Linked DNA regions of Homo sapiens. The protein of the gene in region 1 purifies or fractionates together with the protein of each later gene. This does not show direct contact. Each region holds a gene or a part of one and is shown on either strand. Other genes may lie near its edges.

The links.
Region 2: the proteins of GNAT1 (region 1) and DNAJC6 purify together in Homo sapiens (affinity purification with mass spectrometry; 2 studies listed by BioGRID and IntAct, with this or other methods). This does not show direct contact.

Annotation. Positions count from the first base shown.
Region 1 is NC_000003.12:50,194,476-50,198,209, reverse strand, and holds the end of GNAT1 (guanine nucleotide-binding protein G(t) subunit alpha-1), read right to left. Parts: intron 3,710-3,734; coding exon 3,556-3,709; intron 3,446-3,555; coding exon 3,255-3,445; 3' UTR 3,254-3,254; intron 2,943-3,253; 3' UTR 514-2,942; downstream 1-513. UniProt on the Homo sapiens protein: Functions as a signal transducer for the rod photoreceptor RHO. Required for normal RHO-mediated light perception by the retina.
Region 2 is NC_000001.11:65,307,346-65,311,092, reverse strand, and holds the start of DNAJC6 (auxilin), read right to left. Parts: upstream 1,551-3,747; 5' UTR 1,348-1,550; coding exon 1,155-1,347; intron 1-1,154. UniProt on the Homo sapiens protein: May act as a protein phosphatase and/or a lipid phosphatase.

The sequences.
Region 1 (3,734 bases):
TTGAACATGGAAGGAGGAGGTTGCAGTGAGCCGAGATCATGCCATTGCCACTCCAGCCTGGGCAACAAGAGCAAAACTTCGTCTCAAAATAAATAAATAAATAAATAAATAAAATAAAAATAGATTCACCATATGAGGCCGGTTGCAGTGGCTCACGCCTGTAATCCCAGCACTCTGGGAGGCCGAGGTGGGCAGATCACCTGAGATCAAGAGATAGATCGAGACCATCCTGGACAACATGGTGAAACCCCGTCTCTACTAAAAACACAAAAATTAGTTGGGCATGGTGGCGTGTGCCTGTAGTCCCAGCTACTCAGGAGACTGAGGCAGGATAATTGCTTGAACCTGGGAGGCGGAGGTTGCAGGGAGCCGAAATTGTGCCGCTGCACTCCAGGCTGGCGACAGAGAGAGACTCTGTCTCAAAAAAAAAAAAAAAAAAAAAAGATTCACCATATGATTTGCCAGTTCCATTTCTGGGTATACACCCAAAATAATAAAAAACAGAGGCTGGGAGAGAGATTTGTACACCCATGTTCATAGCAGCATTATTCACAATAGCCAAAAGGCAGATGTAACCATTCATCAATAGATGAATAAATAAACAAAGTGTGGAATATATACAATGGAATATTATTCAACCTTAAAAAGGAAGGAGATTCTGCCATATGCTACACATGAATAAACCTTGAAGACATGATGCTAAGTGAAATAAGCCAGTTGCAAAAAGACAAAGACTTCATGGACCCACACATCTGAGGCACTTAGAGCAGTCACATTCATAGAGATGGAAAGTAGAATGGTGGATGCCAGGAGCCGGGGGAAGGCAGGAATGGGGGGTTATTTTTTCATGGGTACAGAGTTACAGTTTTACAAGAGGAAAGGAGTTCTGGAGATGAACAGTTGCGGTGGTTGTACAACATTATGAATGTACTTAACACCACCAAACTATACACCGGCAAGTGGCTGAGATAGTAAACTTTATGATACATGTATTTTTAAAACTGGCAAAAAATCCCTACAAACATATAGCAACAAATAGTTTTCCCTTTGCTTCAAGCCCCAATATATCTTAGCATGCCTCTGTTTGATCCTCTGTTGGATTTTGATATTTCATTCATTGTGGGGTTTTGCATTCATTTGATTTTTAAAAATATTATCCTAATATTATTTACCTTGGTTACTAAATTTTTTGGCATCGCCTTAAATGTTGCACCCAAGGTGAGTGTGCCTCACTTCCCTCACCCTAATCCCAGCCCTGCAATTATGTTCCTGCCTCGAGGGCTTCCAAGACTCTCCATCACCTTCTGAGAAAGCCCAGGCCCTCCGACTGGCTTTGGGCACCTGTCCACGTCTCTCCTCCCCTGCTCTTGCTCCACTGAACTCCTGTGGCCATAAGCCCATGTTTCTGGGGCTGGTAGACACTACGGTCCCTGCCAGAATGAGCCTCCACCTCAAAACTCCCTCTTGATCCAAGACTGTCCCAGTGAATATTTTCCACAGCTCCTCTCTCCTCAACTCCCGTGAAAAGCCATGAGTTGGTCCCATACCCCCAAGAGTGCCCCACCTTGTCAGGCCAGGTACTTCTTCCTGGGAGGGGCCATCTTCCCACTTCATGCCCAACCCAGCACTGGGCACTTAATAAATGCCCATGACTTGTGATAATTAAGTCCTCCACCAAGAAAGGACAGCTGGAGCCTGATGCAAAGGTTTATTGCTGAGTCTGTGCGTCTAGCTGAGGGGAGTGCAAATTGTGCCCCGGCCTTGCCAGACGGAAGCTCCTTGTCCCCGACTGCAGCACAGGCCCTGGCCTGTGGACATAAGCAAAGATTTGGTGCTGGATGAGGAAGGAGGGAGCAGGGATGTGGGGACATGGGCCTTTGTCCCTGATAGTTCAGCCATGGCTCTCAGCTTCCCCTGCCAGGGAACCCTGAATGGAAGGGGCAAGAGAAGCTGCTGGTAGGGACAAGAGGGTCACCCAGGTTTGCTTGTAACCCCACCTGAGGTAGACCCTTTTGGGCACAGCCAGGGCCTTTGTCCTATCCTGAATCCTCTGGGCTGATCCAAGGGAGCTGGACTCTGTCCCCAGCCACCCCTCAGGACAGCCCAGCTATTGGCCATAGCTGGTGTCAACAGTACCCTCCCTTAACCCCTTAACACACCATCCTGTTGTCCAACCAGCCCAGGGTACTGTGTGTGGGTGGGGAAGTGGTGTGTGGATCTGCTGTCCAAGGACACAGGGAGCAGATCCTGCTGGAGAAGGCTGGAGGTTGCTCTGAGCCTAGTATTTGGGGAAGGGTCCTGCTGTGTCTCACTCTGGCACCCAAGGGCCCCCAGGTCTGCCCCCTCCCCACTAATTTATTTATGTGGGGGCCACACAGGCCAGAGCTAGCTTGGACTTTGGACCCTTTGGAGGCTGCTGGGAGGGACAGTCACTGGCTCTGGGTAGACAGGTGTCAAACTTGTCACATGGAGGTGGCAGGGTGAGCAGCTGGCCTGTGTGTGGGAGGGATATTCCCTGTCCTTGATGAAATACTGGGAGGGAGGGCTGTTTGCTGAGCCCAGGCCCACCAGGTGAGTCGTGGGCCCCCAGGGGCAGGAGAGCTGCGGGAGATTGGTCAGTTGGGCACTGCTGAGTCACCGTGAGCTTCAGCTGCCCCAAGTCCTGCCCGTTCCTAGCTGGGGCTGGCTGCTGTGAGTCCTAGAGGCCAGTGCAGCCGGGCGGTGAAGGGCAGGGCTTGGGGTTGGGGGCATGAGGCGCTGGGATACTGTGGGAGGTATGGGGGAGGGTCCGCGCCTCAAGGCTAGCAGGGCTCAGAGCTTTGGTGAGGTGGCAGGTTGGGGCCAGGGAGTCCCAGGGGGCTGATAGGGTCCTGGGGTTTGGGGCTGCAAGGCAGCTAGGGCTACCAGGTCTCAGGGTGACTGACACGCATGAATTCAGGCACCTGTGAAAAGGAAACCCAGTCAGCATCCCTGAGACCCAAAATAAATGGGTTTAGGCATTGTGTGTGGTGGGGCGGCCCTGGAAGCTGTGACACCTGAGGTCTTGGGGCGGGGCCAAAAGAAATTCAATGGGTGGGACTTGTGGGGTGGGGCGGGGCCTCTGTCGGTGGGGTGGAGCCTGAGGAGCTGGGGTGGGGCCTGGAGGCAGTAGGCTCCAGGATTTGGGGGTGAGGCTCCAGGGCCGTGGTGTGGGGTGGGGAGCTGGACGGGGCTGGGGTATTGAGGCAAGAGCCTGGAGAGGGCAGCGACCTACCTCAGAAGAGGCCACAGTCTTTGAGGTTCTCCTTGATGATGATGTCGGTGACAGCGTCGAAGACAAATTTGACGTTCTGCGTGTCGGTGGCGCACGTCATGTGGGAATAGATCTCCTTCACGTCGCGCCGCATGTTGAGCTCGAGGAACTGCACCTTGATGTAGTTGCCGGCGTCCTCGTAGGTGTTGGGTCCTGCGGGGGCGGGAGCTCTCACTCTGCTCAGCCCTTCCTTCCCCGTGCGGGGGGTGCGCGCCGCGATCGTGGGGCGGGGGCGCCGCCTGGCGGCCTTGCGGACTTCTCACCATCGTAGTCCGGGAAACAGATGCTGAGGTGCGCCTTCTTGATCTTCTCGAAGAAGACGTCCTTCTTGTTAAGGAAGAGCACGATGGACGTCGTGGCGAAGTAGCGGTGGTTGCAGATGCTGTTGAACAGGTGCAGGCTCTCGTGCATGCGGTTCTGAGGAGGGCAGCAGCTGTTGGGC
Region 2 (3,747 bases), on another chromosome or scaffold:
GCCCAGGACATTTGAGCATCTGTGGACAATATTTCATCCCACTTTGGGACAAGGAAAATAGAAAATAATAGCCCAAGGACAGCCATTACACAATTAAAATAAACAAGCATTTGTTTGCAAAGCAGGGCATTTAAATTCAGTTTGATTTCATTACTGTTCAAACGACCCCATATGAATCTTTCCTCTGGAATCCTCAGTTGTCCAGTATTAAAGTTACCAGTGTAGAACCAACCACTGAGGACTTCAATTATAAATATCTCTGTAAACAATTCTCCGAACCTGGTTCCCTGCAGAAGTAAGCAAATAGCTATAATAATACTCCTAGTCCAACATGGATATATTAAATGACTGTTTTGCTATTGAAATCGCAAATGCCAACAGCAGTTCCAAGAGAGGACTCTAACTTGCCAAACCTTTTATAAAAGACAGTTGCAAGCCCCGATACAAAGTTTAGAGGAATTTCCTTGTCCCTACATGTAAAGGTTTATGAAATCTGTACACTCAAGCAAAAGGACAAACAAGATCAAAGCCAACACATGAAATAAATTTCATTGTGCAAACAGTAAAAGCTGTGTAAAAGAGCTCTAGATCCCAGGTTAAAAACTGCAGGAGAAAGGTAACATTAACCCTAGCAGACGGCTGAGTTAAGATGTGGCAGAGCTTTACAGAATTGCAAATAGCATCAGCATTGCAAGAATAACAATTGGAATAAATACCGTCTGCATGCTGCAAAAACAATCAACGCACATGCTCCTTCACCTCTCCCCCTCATCCAGCTGGGCAGTGAAAGCAGCTGCCTCTCCCAGCCCTCCTCCCAAGCCGTTCTTCGCCCCACCCGCTCCCCTCTCTTCTCCACCCCTCCCCTCCTCCTTCCCTCCCCCTCCCCGCCCCCAGCTGCCGTATTCAGCAGTCTAGAGAGATTAGGAGGAGCTCGCTACAGTCTCTGGGCCTCAGGACTGATCTAACGTTTCGTAGCTCCCTGGATGAGAGAAATTAGAGACTCGACACCCAGGTGGTATTAGAAGCCTTCGCCTCCAGCCCGGCTCTCTCGCAAACCGGGGCTGGGGGACCACGGGGGGGCCTCGGGCCGGGCGACTGGGAGGCTCCGGAGGCCGCGCGGGGCTCAGCGCTGCACTCCCCTCGGGCAGCGCTACCTGAGCTGTCCATGGTGCTGGCGCGGTCCGGAGGCTGTCGGGCGGGACTCCGCGCCGCTGCCCCGGCGTTCACTCTCTGCTTGCCGCCAACCCCGCCGCTTCCCGCACTTAAGTCCCCGTTACTGTCCACCAGCTGCAAAGATTCATAACCATCGTTGCTGGTCTTTTTCCGGTAGCTCCCGAGGAGGCTCATGGGCAAGCCCGGAGAAAAGAGAAAATAATCAACCTGGGAAGCGAAAAGGGAGATGGAAGGTGGAAAGGGCTGAAGAAGGAATTAAAAAAAAAAAAAAATTAAGTGCCCGACATGACGCAAAGAGGAGGGAAAAGAAGGAGCGGCCACCGGAGAGAAGCTTCGCCGGGCGAGGCGAAGCCGCCGCCCTGGGCTGAGCTCGGCTCGGGGCGCCGGGAGGAGGGAGGGAGGGAAGGAGACGCGGCCGGGCGGGGGCGCGCGTCCTCTGGGCCAACGCCGCGGAGCCGCCCGGCCCTGCCGAGCTCCGGGCCCCAGGCCAGCACCTCCTGGCTGAGGAGTGCCCGGAAGCAATCCTATAGGTGTCGCCGCGTCGCCCCGCCGCGCAGCAGGGCAGCGCCAAAGCCGCTGGCCCGCGGGGAGGGAAGGAAAGGGAGGTAGGAAGGGAGGGGAGGTTCGTGAGGAGGGGGGTTGAAGGGAAACGGGGCGGGGTGGTCGGGGGAGGGGACTACTACGACGTGGGTTGGGAGGGTGTGTTCGCACGCGTGTGACAGAGAAGAAAGGGGCGAGGTATCTCGGCCTGCGAAGCTTTGAGGACCAGGGGTCTTGTGGTAAAATCCAGACACACCCATTTCATGCAACTTAGCCTATTTTCACCGGAAGATTCCGCCAAAGCCACCAGGACGGTAACCGTCCTAGAGAACTGACTTGTAACTCAATTCAACAGAAAAAGAATGCATGTTAAGTGCCAGAATATATCTATGCTAGGATATAAAGGAAGAGCAATATTTTGCACATTCTCCAGAATAGGGATGATCCCTAAGGGAGATATCAAAGAGTTGGGTATTCTAATACTAGGAGGCAGCGTCCGTTCTGCCTAGAGAGCAGATGTGACTGTTTAGAACTCTTTGTTGAGCGAATAAACTGGGGAGAAGGGCAAGGTTAAGTCCGACGCATTTTCAGATCCGCCACCATTTACCTTAGGACCTGGAGAAAAGACTGTTTCAGTTAGCTAGCTTGAAGGCCTGCTTGGGAAGCAAGATAGACAAGGATTTTTTTTCCCCATCCTCTAGCCTCACGCCTTATTTTTCTTTCACAATTCTGGCCAAAGAAAGCAGTAACTCATAATCAGAAGAGAATTTATCATGAAGTTAATTAAGCTGTGTACCTAATTTTGTATCTGTCATCGTGTATTCTTAAAAGAAGACTCCGACATTGTATAAGTTCTGGATCTGAACAAAACCTGGATAAACTCTGGTAAGTCTTAAAATGTAATTATCGAATGTTTATTTTCACCTAAAATAATAAGATTTCAGAAGGATTGCTCATTCTCATCATCTTAGGTCAAGATCAAGTAAGTCTTGGTTAAAAATTATCATTTTCTCTACTAAAACTTGGAGGGACTAAGTGAGGCGCCCGTCAAGAGTCATTTGACAGAGTTTCCTCACCAAAACAGGAAAAAAGTACGTGCATGTAAAATGTACTTGAGCCCATACACAAAGCCAGCTTTGCTTTCTTCTCATCTTACATGGTTTTCTCTTGCTGTCCTTATATCAATCACCTAAGGACACAAAATCAAACAATAGCATCTAAGAGACTTCAGTCCAGATGATTTGGGTCTCAGAAAGTTTCCGGGAAGCTCTAGCTCTACACAGTTCTACATAAAATAAATTGGACTAAGAGACATTTTCCTGTACAAGGATCACCCAAACACAGATTCTTGTAGGAAGAGCATCAACCAGAAGAAGTCCAAAGAAATGTTTTCTAAATCCTTCCAGTCCTTCTGGGGAAACCTAAACTTCCTGGCCAGTTGCTTTCCCAACTGCATTCTTTGATGAGGTATGGTGTGACCTGAATTGCAAATCAGAGTTAATGCTCATTTATAACAAGATCAAACAATCTGAATGGTGGCAGGAAAAACTGCAATAAAAATTTTAAAACAAATTTTTATACTTTCAATTTTCCAAATCTGTCAGATTGAATTATTTTAGTTACTTGACTAAAGTAATAATTCTGTGAAGTCTAGTAAATCTTTTCCCATAACATCTTAAATAATCTTTCTCTGTACTTTTTCTTTTAATTCATTACAGACACACAGGGACAGTAAATACCTAGTGTTCATCATGTGCCCTGACAAATGCTGGACTATAATCATTGGATTAATAGAATTTAGAACCAGCCTCAGTGACAGACTGAGACCCTGTCTCAAAAAATAAATAAATAAATACAGGATCATTTTTGAAAAGTGAAAATTATTATTTTCAAAAAGAGCACTTTCAGTTATTTTTGCTCAACTTGCAGACATATTGCTGAAAGAAATTATAGATGAGACATATGCCTTTGTATTTTTCAATATCTATCTCTGGAGTTTGCAAGTGTAAAGAAAAATCTGAATGGGCTATAAGA